3 linked regions of the Homo sapiens genome follow. The protein of the gene in region 3 purifies or fractionates together with the protein of the main gene of each other region. This does not show direct contact. Each region holds a gene or a part of one and is shown on either strand. Other genes may lie near its edges. The genes, in order: EXOC3, EXOC7 and EXOC2.

Region 1 (3,747 bases), on a different chromosome or scaffold from region 3:
CTTCCCAAAATGACATGTTAAAGATGGAAATATCTGTGCATGTATACATTTTACCTTTAGTGGCTACATATATTTATCGTATTTATTTGCCCAATTCTCTATTGATGGACATTTAAATTTTTTTCACATTTTGCAATAATGCAACAGTGAATCTGTATAATTCTGATGAAATTCCTTAAAGTTGAATTTTTCAGTCAAAAAGTATACACATTAAAACCAATAAAAGTATACAAATTAAAACTCCAATAAAAGTATACAAATTAAAACTCCAATAGAAGTGTACAAATTAAAACTCCAGTAAAAGTTACAGATTAAAACTACAATGGCTGTATTTCCAAGCTGCCCTCAAAAACCCAACCCAGTTCAGGCCCACACAGAATACAAACAGCCCCTTTTTCCCACACCCTCAACAAGCCTGAACAGCATCCACGTCTCCGGCTCCTGCCATCCTGCTGAGCAGCAGGTCCTGTTGAGCATTCATTGCTTCGAGGATAAGATCGGGCGTCTAGTTTCACGATGAGGACACTGGTGTTGCTTTTAATGTGAGGTGGCCGTTCATGTCTTTTGCCCATTTTTCTATATATTCTTTTTAAATTTTGAAATAATTTCAAATGTAAATATTTTCTTCTTGCTAAGTCATATTTGCGAAAGTTACAAGTGTCTGCCTCTTTGGGGACACTTCCACACACATTTCTGTTCTCTTGCACAACCAGACACTGATGAATCAGCAACCAATCCCACCCCTCATCCCAGGAACCCCTTTCCAGCAGGACCACCAGATGGCCATGGTCTTATTATTTTGTTGTTGTTGTTGTTTTGAAATGGAGTTTGCTCTTGTTGCCCAGGCTGGAGTGCAATGGCGCGATCTCTGCTCACTGCAACCTCCACCTCCCGGGTTCAAGCAATTCTCCTGCCTCAGCCTCCCAAGCAGCTGGGATTACAGGTATGCGCCACCACACCCAGGTAATTTTGTATTTTGAGTAGAGATGGGGTTTCTCCATGTTGGTCAGGCTGGTCTCGAACTCCCAACCTCAGGTGATCCGCCTACCTTGGCCTCCCAAAGTGCTGGGATTAAAGGCGTAAGCCACCACACCCGGCCTACAAGGTCTTATTTTTTAAATATATCCTGATTTCTGCCAATACCTCTAAATAATGTTAAGCCATCTTTATGTTTCTGAAATAACCCCTACATTTCATGGTAGGTTATGCCTTTGATACAATATTAAATTCATTTTATTAATGATTTTTGCGTGTGTACCTATATTCAAAAGCGAAACTGATCTATGTGAGGATGTGTGTGTGTGTGCACTCTCAATTTGACTTTTTGACAGGTCCCTACATATCGGTTTCTATTTTGTAATCCACTAAATTGTCTGATGTCTTTAATACTTACAGGGTGAATCTACTGAATTGTGCGTAAGAAGGACCCTGCATCATACGAAGCAGCGTCACCGAAAACGGAGGCGCTTTAAGCGATCTGACCGGAATGCAAGTGCACAGCCCGGCTCCCCAGACGGCATCCGCACGGTACAGTTCACAGCCTGTGTCCCAGAGGGCAGTGAGGAAGCACTGGGCTTCGGCCCAGAAAACGGCAGGAGGAAAGAGCCAGGCCCACCTCCAGGTCCAGGAAGACCTCCTCCAGCAAACCGCTGCAGCCCTCCTTCGCGATGGCGTCTAAAATCCCGTCCATGCTGGGCTGGCTCGGAGACACACCCTCTTCCACTTCATTCTTTAAATACTTTCTTTTTAAACTGACTATGGATTCCCTGCAAGGAAAGGGTTCAGGTTCAACACAGCGGCTGGGCAGGCCGGCCTCCACCGCTCCCCCGCCACAGCGCCCGGCCACACTCACTTGAAGGTCTGGCAGTTGTTGATGATGGCGATCATGTACTGAACGTAGCAGTGAGGGTGCTGCCGATTCCTCAGGTGCTCTTCTTTATACAGCTGCGCTTCATCTTTATATCTGAGGACAGACAGGCTTCGGTCAGACAGCACTAAGGGCAACATGGAGCTGTTTCAAATGCCACGCTGACGTCACGCCTGGCCTGAAATTTCACATCACTAACATCTGACCGGATGAGCCTCTAAAAATAAAACAATCTTTAGACGATCCAGACTAATGGAAGGACAGAGAGGTTGATTACTTTAAATGGATCAAAAAATAACTTCACCTCAGGCTTTAAAATATGGCTCATTAGGAGGCTGAGGCAGGGAGACCACCTGAGCCCAGGAGTTAAAGGCTGCTGGCTGCGCTGCAGTGAGCTACCCGTCGGGGTAACCTAATCAGACCTTGTCTCTTTTTTTTTTTTTGAGATAGAGTCTTGCTCTGTCACCCAGGCTGGAGTGCAGTGGTGAGACCTTGGCTCACTGCAACCTCCACCTCCTGGGTTCAAGTGATTCTCCTGCCTCAGCCTCCTGAGCAGGTGGGACTACAGGTGTGCCCCACCATGCCCAGCTAATTTTTGTATTTTTAGTAGAGACAGGGTTTCACCACATTGGCCAGGCTGGTCTCGAACTCCTGACCTCATGATCCACCCGCCTCAGCCTCCCAAAGTGCTGGGATTACAGGCGTAAGCCACCGTGCCTGACCGACCTTGTTTCTTAAAAACAATTAAAAAATATAAAAATTTTGAGGAGTTGGTAAAAAATAATAACTGAAAAAAGGAAAAAAAATATGGTTCAGCATTCTGATTGTAAAAATATACTACATAGTTGATTGTGAGGAATTGGGAAAGCATTATCTTATTTTATTTATTTTATTTACTATACACTTCACCTAGAAACTCATAGTGTTAGGAACCTCATCAAATGTCAGGTAAAATGTCCCTTTCAGAAACTGTCCCTGAAATCATCCAATTAAAAACAGACACTTGAAATGTCAAGAAAACAAACAGAGGTAGTGACACGCTCTATTTTTAAACTTACTGTGGGGATGCTCAAGCACCTATGGGAGTGGAAGAATCATACAACAAATACCGTTTCTATTTTTAAGAGATGTTAAGAAAGGAGCACACTGAAAGCTGGCAATTAAAGGGAAAGAAGTTAGCATTTCTGTCCAAAGTGTGGTTCAGGTCATCAAAAAGCTGAGGGTGATCAAGGAACGGTCTCTTTATAGAAGAATCTAACCTCATAAATGACAATGACCTCCAAAGAAACAAACTCAGGCCAAGATCCCCATGGACAGATGGCCAATAGGGATTTGGCCATGCCTCTGTGGATAGAAGGCCAATGGGGACTTGGCTAAGACTTGGCCAGTGGGGACTTGGCTAAGACCTCTATGGATAGAGGGCCAATGGGAACTTGGCTAAGACTTGGCCAGTGGGGACTCGGCTAAGACCTCTATGGAAGAGGGCCAGTGGGGACTCAGCTGTGACCCCTGTGGATGGGCGGCCAGTGGGGACTTGGGCATTACCCCTATCGATGGATGGCAAATGGGAACTCTGAGTGGGCGGCGTGGCTGTAGTACCTAAGCCACCAGGACAGGACCTATGGACGCCATGTCTCCTGATGTGCCACATCGTGGAAGGCACACTCACCAATAAGTGGGATCCAAGCCTGCAGAGCCAGCATCTGGCTCGGGAGCTGACAGTAGACTGAGGAGGAGGCTGAGGGACATCTCTCTACAGAGATCTACAAGCCAGCAGCTGAAGGAGGGAAGGGGCTATTCGGCTTACCAGAGGCCTAGGAACCCTAAGCCCTCATGCGATGCAGTCCAATCTGATTCACAACTATCAAAAGACACACTTG
Region 2 (3,747 bases), on a different chromosome or scaffold from region 3:
GCATTCCTAAACCGGACTGGAAGTAGTTTCATACAGAGTAGCCTCAAATGCATTGCTGTATCTTCAAAACCCTCTCTAAGGATGAAACTCATTGAATAAGGACTAGAGGCTGGGCGTGATGGTTCATGCCTGTAATACCCAGAATTTGGGAGGCTGAGGCGGGAGGTTAGCTTGAGACTAGGAGTTCAAGACAAGCCTGGACAACACAGTGAGACCCTGTCTACACACACAGACACACACACACACACACACACACACACACACACACACAATTAGCAAGGCGTGGTGGTGTGTGCCTACAGTCCCAGCTGCTAGGAGGCCGAGGCAGGAGGACTGCCTGAGCCCAGGAGTTAGAGACTGCAGTGAGCTACAGTCATGCCACTGCACTCTAGCCTGCACAACACAGCCAGACTCTGCCTCTAAAAAAAAAAATTTAAAAATTAAAATTTTTAGAAAAGGACTAGGACTTTATTATTGTGTGACTAAATGCAAATACAAGTTTGTATTTACTCACTTTGTGCTTTTCCAGTCTCCCCTAGGAATAAAGAAGGAAACTCACTTATTGAGCACCTATTGTATACCAGGCACTGTGCAAGATGCAGTCGCATGCATTAGCGCATATGACCTTCACAGACACACTGGGAGGCTGGCACAGTCTCTGTTTTAGCAGATGAATTCGCTGACACCAGTTACCTATCAGGAGCCGCACATTTAAGCAGAAGGGCAAGGACTAGATCCCAGATCTGCCTGACTTTAGAGCTCTTTCTTTCCCTAAAGTCCTCTGGAGTGAAGGCTGAGTCTTCTCTGCCCTCAGGAATCTCAAAGTGCCAACCTCCTGGGCAGAGAGTCCACTGACAATGACATATGCCCAGTACCTAGCCCAACTGGTCAGACTCACTGAGTGTTTGCAGAAGGAGAGAAGGAAGAATGGCGAGCTTAGACAGAAAGCAGCAAGTCCAGGCCAGTGGGAAGTGCAGCCTCCTCAGTGAGGGTACGGAACATGGGGAGGGGGCTAGGCAGGAGAGATGCCAAACTGTTGCTAGATAAACCCACACACTGCCTCCGTCGCTGCCCATTCCAGAACTCCAGGCCGCAGGAACCGGAACCGCCAGGTCGCAAGGCTCTCCCCCAGGGTCCGGAGGCCTGCCCTCTCCCCCAGCTGCGGGGAGACTCACCATGTTCTTAGTGAGCTGGTCGCTCTTCTCCAGGCTGTCTCGGATGAAGGACAGAGTCTCCTCCTCCTGGGGGCAGGCAAGGGGAGGACATCACCAGAAACCAGAAGCTAAAGGAGACCACTGCGTCCCAACCCCACGGCCTAGCCCCCAACCCCATCTCCTCGCTGGGTGCGCTCCCTCCCACCCCTGCCTCCTCCATGAGTAGACAATCAGGCCCCGCTGTTGGCCCCTTTCCCTCACCTCCTCCCCAGCCTCCCCAGGCCCACGCCCACCTGCTTCAGCTTGTCCTCAATCTCCCGCCGTCGAGCGGATGCCTCCTGTGGGGGAATCATCGCTCTGAACCCCGCGGCTCCCACTCCCCAGTATCTTTCCTCCGCGGGCCCACCGGGCCCCCGTCCCCGTCACACCCACTTCCGCTCTTGGTCCCGCCCCGGGACGCCTGGGCGGAGCCATGTTGGGAATCGCAGGCTGAAGTGCGCCTGCGCGGAGCCCAAGAACGGACCGACGGCCATTTTGAGCGTGGCTGGGAAGAGAAGTGTATTCGGATGCTGCAAGGGACCTCGACGCGGGTTCCTTGCCTCAGCAGAGGTTTTCGATCGGCCTTATGTCCCGCGGCTGGCAGGACACTTAGAGCTCACTTGCTGTTTTCGTTGAAAGACCGACCCTTTTGATAAAGACTGCTGGGGAAGGCGACGAATTCCTTTCCCCAGGTCGCATTCTATGGGCAGGCACCAAGGCCAATTGCGTTTCCCACAAAGCCCCGCACGGAGCAGGTGACACAGTAGATGCCTAACGTGTGTCCATGTAATGAACCAGGGGCTTGTGTACTTGTTTCCGCCTTCCACCCTGCATTACGCAAAAACGTATCCTGTGGGCTGGCGGGGCTGCTCCGGAGCTCCAGGCCCAGACCCAGCGTCCAACTGCAGCTCCAGGGGACGGGGTGGGGGGCGCCCCTGGATCAACTTCCCTGCGGGGCTGGATGTTGTGGTTGCAGACCCAGCTCCTGCAAAACCTCGAGTTACTCCTTCCTCTAACCCGTCCCTGCCCACCCTGCCTCTGGCCCCCAGCCTTGAGAAAGGACAAGGCCGACCAGCTTGGTTCAGTCCTTCTGTGGCCTCAGTGTCCAGACACCCGGAAGATAGACAAGGAGGCATGTGCTGGTAGATGAGAAGGTTTGGGGCGGGCAGGGGGGACACCAAGCTTTTTTTTTCCTTTCTTTTCTTTTGAGAGAGAGTCTCACTCTGTCGCCCAGGCTGGAGTGCAAGTGGCACGATCTTGGCTCATTGCAGTCTCTGCCTCCCGGGTTCAAGTGATTCTCGTGCCTCAGCGTCCCGAGTAGCTGGGATTACAGGCGGCTGCCAACACGCCCGGCTAATTTTTTTGTATTATTAGTAGAGACAGGGTTTCGCCATGTTGCCCAGGCTAGTCTCGAACTCCTGACCTCAAGTGATCCACCCGCCTTGGCCTTCCAAAGTCCTGAGATTACAGGCGTGAGCCCCTGCTCCCGGCCTAAGGAGAGAAGGAGAGAAGGAAGAACCCAAGCTCTAGGGTTCCCAAGCGCTCACTCCACCCATAGTCACCCGAAGAGGAGGAGGAGGAGGAAGTGGGTGCACAGAGCCTGGAGAGGGATGGGCAGCCTTCCCTCAGGCAAGAGGACAATTTCAATCCTGTTGTAGGTGGGGGAGATAAAAGGCTGATTCCTGTGTCAGGAAATACCCAGGATGATTTCGCTGACATGGTCCTTGTGTAGTCCAAAGGGCTAAGTAGGAGAAAGTTTAAACTGTTAGATGTCACAGAATAGAGTAGCGGGGCTAGTTAGCCGCTGTAGAGAGGGTGTTTTGGGCTCAGGTGGACTACCTTTGAGGGCCTGGTCCAGCATTTAACCTGAGTCTCTCTCTCTCTCTCTTTTTTTTTTCTTGAGACGGAGTCTTGCTGTGTTGCCCAGGCTCGAGTGCAATGGCGTGATCTCGCCTCACTGCAACTTCTGCCTCCCGGGTTCAAGCGATTCTCCTGCCTCAGCCTCTCGAGTAGCTGGGATTACAGGCATGGGCCACCACCCTGGCTAATTTTGTATTTTTAGTAGAGATGGGGTTTCTCCATGTTGGTCAGGCTAGTCTTGAACTCCCAACCTCAGTTGATCCGCCCGCCTCGGCCTCCCAAAGTGCTGGGATTACAGGTGTGAGCCACCGTGCTTGGCCTGAGTCTCTAAACAGTTCCTGGCCCATAGTAGATGCTTAATAAAAATACTGATAATAAATATTTTGCTCCGGCCAGGTGTGGTGGCTCATGCCTGTAATCCCAGCACTTTGGGAGGCCGAGGCGGGTGGATCACGAGGTCAGGAGTTCGAGACCAGCCTGGCCAACATAGTGAAACCCCATCTCTACTAAAAATACAAAAATTAGCTGGGTGTGGTGGTGTGCACCTGTAGTCCCAGCTACTCGGGAGGCTGAGGCAGAATTGCTTGAACCCAGGAGGCAAAGGTTGCGGTGAGCCGAGATGGTGCCATTGCACTCCAGCCTGGGCAACAGAGCAAGACTCCATCTCAAGCAAAAAAAAAATTTTGTTTTTTTT
Region 3 (3,747 bases):
ACAAACCCTGAGCTAGACACAGGGTGCGGACTGGTGTGTTTACAAACCTTGAGCTAGATACAGTGTGCCGATTGGTGTATTTATAATCCCTGGGCTAGACATAAAGGTTCTCCAAGTCCCCACCAGACTCAGGAACCCAGCTGGCTTCACCCAGTGGATCCCGACCGGGGCCGCAGGTGGAGCCGCCTGCCAGTCCCGAGCCATGCGCCCACACTCCTCAGCCCTTGGGTGGTCGATGGGACTGGGGGCCGTGAAGCAGGGGGCAGCGCTCGTCGGGGAGGCTCGGGCGCACGGAAGCCCATGGCGGGGGGGGTTGGCTCAGGCACTGCAGGCTGCAGGTCCCCAGCCCTGCCCCGCGGGAAGGCAGCTAAGGCCCGGGGAGAAATTGAGCACAGCAGCTGCTGGCCCAGGTGCTAAGCCCCTCACTGCCCAGGGCCGGCGGGTTGGCTGGCCGCTCCGAGTGCCGGCCCGCTGAGCCCACGCCCACCCAGAACTCGCGCTGGCCCGCAAGTGCCGCACGCAGCCCGGGTTCCCACCAGCGCCTCTCCCTCCACACCTCCCCACAAGCTGAGGGAGCCGGCTCCGGCCTTGGCCAGCCTAGAAAGGGGCTCCCACAGTGCAGCGGTGGGCTGAAGGGCTCCTCAAGCACAGCCAGAGTGGGTGCCAAGGCCGAGGAGGTGCCCAGAGCGAGCGAGGGCTGTGAGGGCTGCCAGCACGCTGTCACCTCTCAAAACAATGTTTTAGTAGAAGTATATCCCATGCAACATTAGTTTAGTGATAAATATATCTATACTACAAATTACTTGTTGTTTATCTGAAATTAAACTTTACTGGGTATTTGTATTTTTATTGCTAAATCTGCCAACCTAGGTTGTTGAAACTTACTTTTTTCCACTTCACTTAATATTCTTTTCACAGTCCACTCTGACGAGATGTAGCTTCCCCACACTCCTTTGAAACTGCTTTTGTCAAGGATGCCAATGACTGGCATATGCCAAACTCAATTGTCTCTGGAGTCTTGGCCTCACAGTACTTCTGAACATTGGCTATCAATTCCTCCTTCCTGAAACTATTTAGCTTCCAGAATCCGCTACCCCCACTTTCCTGATTGTCCTTCCTCCCTGGCCATAGCCCCTGAACCCGAGCTTCCCCCAACCTAGAGCATCCCCTGACCCTAAGTATCCCCCCAACCCTGAGAACCCCCTGACCCCGAGTATCCCCCGACCTCGAGAACTCCCCGACCCCGAGCATCCCCCCAACCCCCAGCATCCCACGACCCCGGGCATCTCCCCCGATCCTGCGCATCCCCTGACCTGGTATGGCGCCCTGACCCAGTGCAGCCCTCAAACCCCTGCAGCCCCCTGACCCCATGCATCCTCCTGACCTAGGGCTGCCCCTGACTCAATGTTGCCCCCGGACCCCAGTGCCTCCTCCTGACCTGAGGCACGCCCCCCAACCTGGTACAGTCCCCTGATTCCAGTGCATCCTTCTGACCCAGTGCTGCCTCCTAACCTGGTGCATCCTCCTTACCCAGTGTGGCCCCCTGGGGATGCACACTCCAGTGCATCCTCCTGACCTGATGCTTCCTCTGGTCTCGGTGCAGCCCCCCTGACCTGGTGCAGCCCTCTGATTCCATGCATTCTCTTGACCTTGTGCATCCCCCTGTTCCGGAGGGGTCCTCTGACCCGATGCAGGGCCCATCGTTGTGAACTGTGGCCCACAAACGCACTATCATCCCACAGTCTCCCTGAGATGACCCGAGGGCACGGGGATGGATGGTGCACCCGGCCTGCCCCTTGAGCTTGTATCCTTCTTTCCCTCCCTCACCGCTTCCCGCCACCGCAAAGACGCCCAGCAAAAACCTCCTACTCGTGTCCATTCAGGCAGCTGGGTCCCTCGGAACCCAAGGCATTCCAGCGTCCACCGCCCACGGCCCCTGCTGACCTCCAGCACCCGCGCCGGTCTCCTCCCCTCCTCTACCCTCCCCTGAAGGCTCCGCCCATCGAGGACTCGGCGCTCGACTGCCAGGCGGATCTACACGCTCGGCGCTCGCGGCGGGCGGAAGTGAGGTGCCGGCGGCTGGCGGCCGCGGAGTCTTCGGCGAGACCTACCGGGCCCTGTCTGTGCCGGCCGTGAGCTGCGGCAGGACGGCTGGAGGTATGTGTGGGAGGCTGGAGGGCCTGGCCGAAGGCCAGCGGGACATGGACGTCAGCTGCACGGAGGTGGCCGCCTGCGGCGTCCGTCCAGGCCTCAGCGGTGAAGGGACAGCCGCGCCCACTGGCGCCGTCGGTCACCTGCGGGGCCCCGCGACCCCCCGCGGTTCCCAGCCCCGCAGCCCCCATCCCCGCCGTCAGCCGCCTGCTGGGCTCCGCGCCCACCCCCGCCAGTTCGCACCCCCGCGGTCCCCACCTGCGCCGGTGAGGGGCGTGGGCTGCAGAGGGCTGACTCCAGGCCCCGCCCGCTGGAGCTGGCCCCAGACTGCGCCGCTTCGCCCTTGCGCAGTTGCCACTCCGTGAGATTTGAGAATTTCTCCGGAAAAGTGAACGCGAGGCGGGTGTTACCTGTCTGCCTAGGCGTGCATCCCGCTCTGGCTGTCCTGAGCGCTTAAAAGGCGCCTGCCGCTGTTGTCAGCGTTTGCGTGCACGTACTTGATCCTCGCGCGGGTGTATGTACGCTGCCGTGTGACCCATTTTACGGATAGGGGAGCGGCGGCTCAGAGTGCTTGAGCAAAGAGCCTGAGGTCCTGTTGTAGCTGCCATTGAGACCTTGCGCGCCGGCTCCAGGTCCGCACACCAGCAGCCTGGAAGCCTGGTGATGCGTAACCCTGTATCCCAAGATTGTTAAGAAAACACTTTAGTAATTCCGAGAAATAGTTCTTGAAAGAACTCGTCTTTGAATGGAAGTAAGTTATTTTTAATCTGCCAAAGGTCAACATACTAATAAGTCTGAGAAATTTTAAGTCTGATGCCTTTATGAATCTGTGAGTAAACTTACAAGGAACACTTAAAAAATATTTTTTCTAAGTTAGCCACACTTTAATTAAATCTTTTTGTGTGCACTATGCAATATTGAAAAGTTACTTCTGAGCTTATGTGGATCTGTCTTCTAATGCATAATAATGTTTTGTTTATGAATGTTAGTATGTACTGGCCCATGCTTTGTGTAACTGACTCCTTTAATGACAAATCAACTGAAAGCCAGAATCTTCTCAAAGATGATTTTTTTGTGCTAAAAGTTGGCGATTCCCAGAGTAGTAATAGAAAGAGGGTGATGTGTGCTTAGTACTTACATGTTCACTTGTTTGTCTAAGTAGAAACTTAATAAATTAAAGCAGAGAAGCAGAGTTCCCCCAGTGTGACTTGGACCAACTCTTGGAAGTTTTAGAAAGTGATCTTTTTTTCTTGTCAAGTATTTAATTTCCTGTATTGAATGCCATTTTGAACTACAGTTGACCCTTGAACAACACTGGGGTTAGGGGTGCCCACGCAGTCAAAAATTTCCATGTAACTTTTGACTTTCCCAGGACTTTACTAATAGCCTACTGTTGACCAGAAGCCTTACTGATACATAAACAGTTGACTTACATGTATTTTGTATGTTATACGTATTATATACTGTATTCTTAAAGTAAGCTGAGAGAGGAAAATGTTAAAATCACAACAAATGTATTTACTCTTCTTTAAATGAAAGTGGAGAATCATGAAGGTTATTATCCCCATAGTCTGCATGAGTAGATTGTGGAGGAGG

Evidence for each region.
Region 1: the proteins of EXOC2 (region 3) and EXOC3 purify together in Homo sapiens (affinity purification with mass spectrometry; 7 studies listed by BioGRID and IntAct, with this or other methods). This does not show direct contact.
Region 2: the proteins of EXOC2 (region 3) and EXOC7 fractionate together in Homo sapiens (co-fractionation; 4 studies listed by BioGRID, with this or other methods). This does not show direct contact.

The regions. Positions count from the first base shown.
Region 1 is NC_000005.10:460,176-463,922, reverse strand, and holds part of EXOC3 (exocyst complex component 3), read right to left. Parts: intron 1,964-3,747; coding exon 1,853-1,963; intron 1,767-1,852; coding exon 1,616-1,766; intron 1-1,615. UniProt on the Homo sapiens protein: Component of the exocyst complex involved in the docking of exocytic vesicles with fusion sites on the plasma membrane.
Region 2 is NC_000017.11:76,102,186-76,105,932, forward strand, and holds the start of EXOC7 (exocyst complex component 7), read right to left. Parts: upstream 1,603-3,747; 5' UTR 1,508-1,602; coding exon 1,448-1,507; intron 1,387-1,447; exon of another isoform or gene 1,242-1,386; coding exon 1,176-1,241; intron 1-1,175. UniProt on the Homo sapiens protein: Component of the exocyst complex involved in the docking of exocytic vesicles with fusion sites on the plasma membrane.
Region 3 is NC_000006.12:691,429-695,175, reverse strand, and holds the start of EXOC2 (exocyst complex component 2), read left to right. Parts: upstream 1-2,036; 5' UTR 2,037-2,157; exon of another isoform or gene 2,158-2,902; intron 2,903-3,747. UniProt on the Homo sapiens protein: Component of the exocyst complex involved in the docking of exocytic vesicles with fusion sites on the plasma membrane.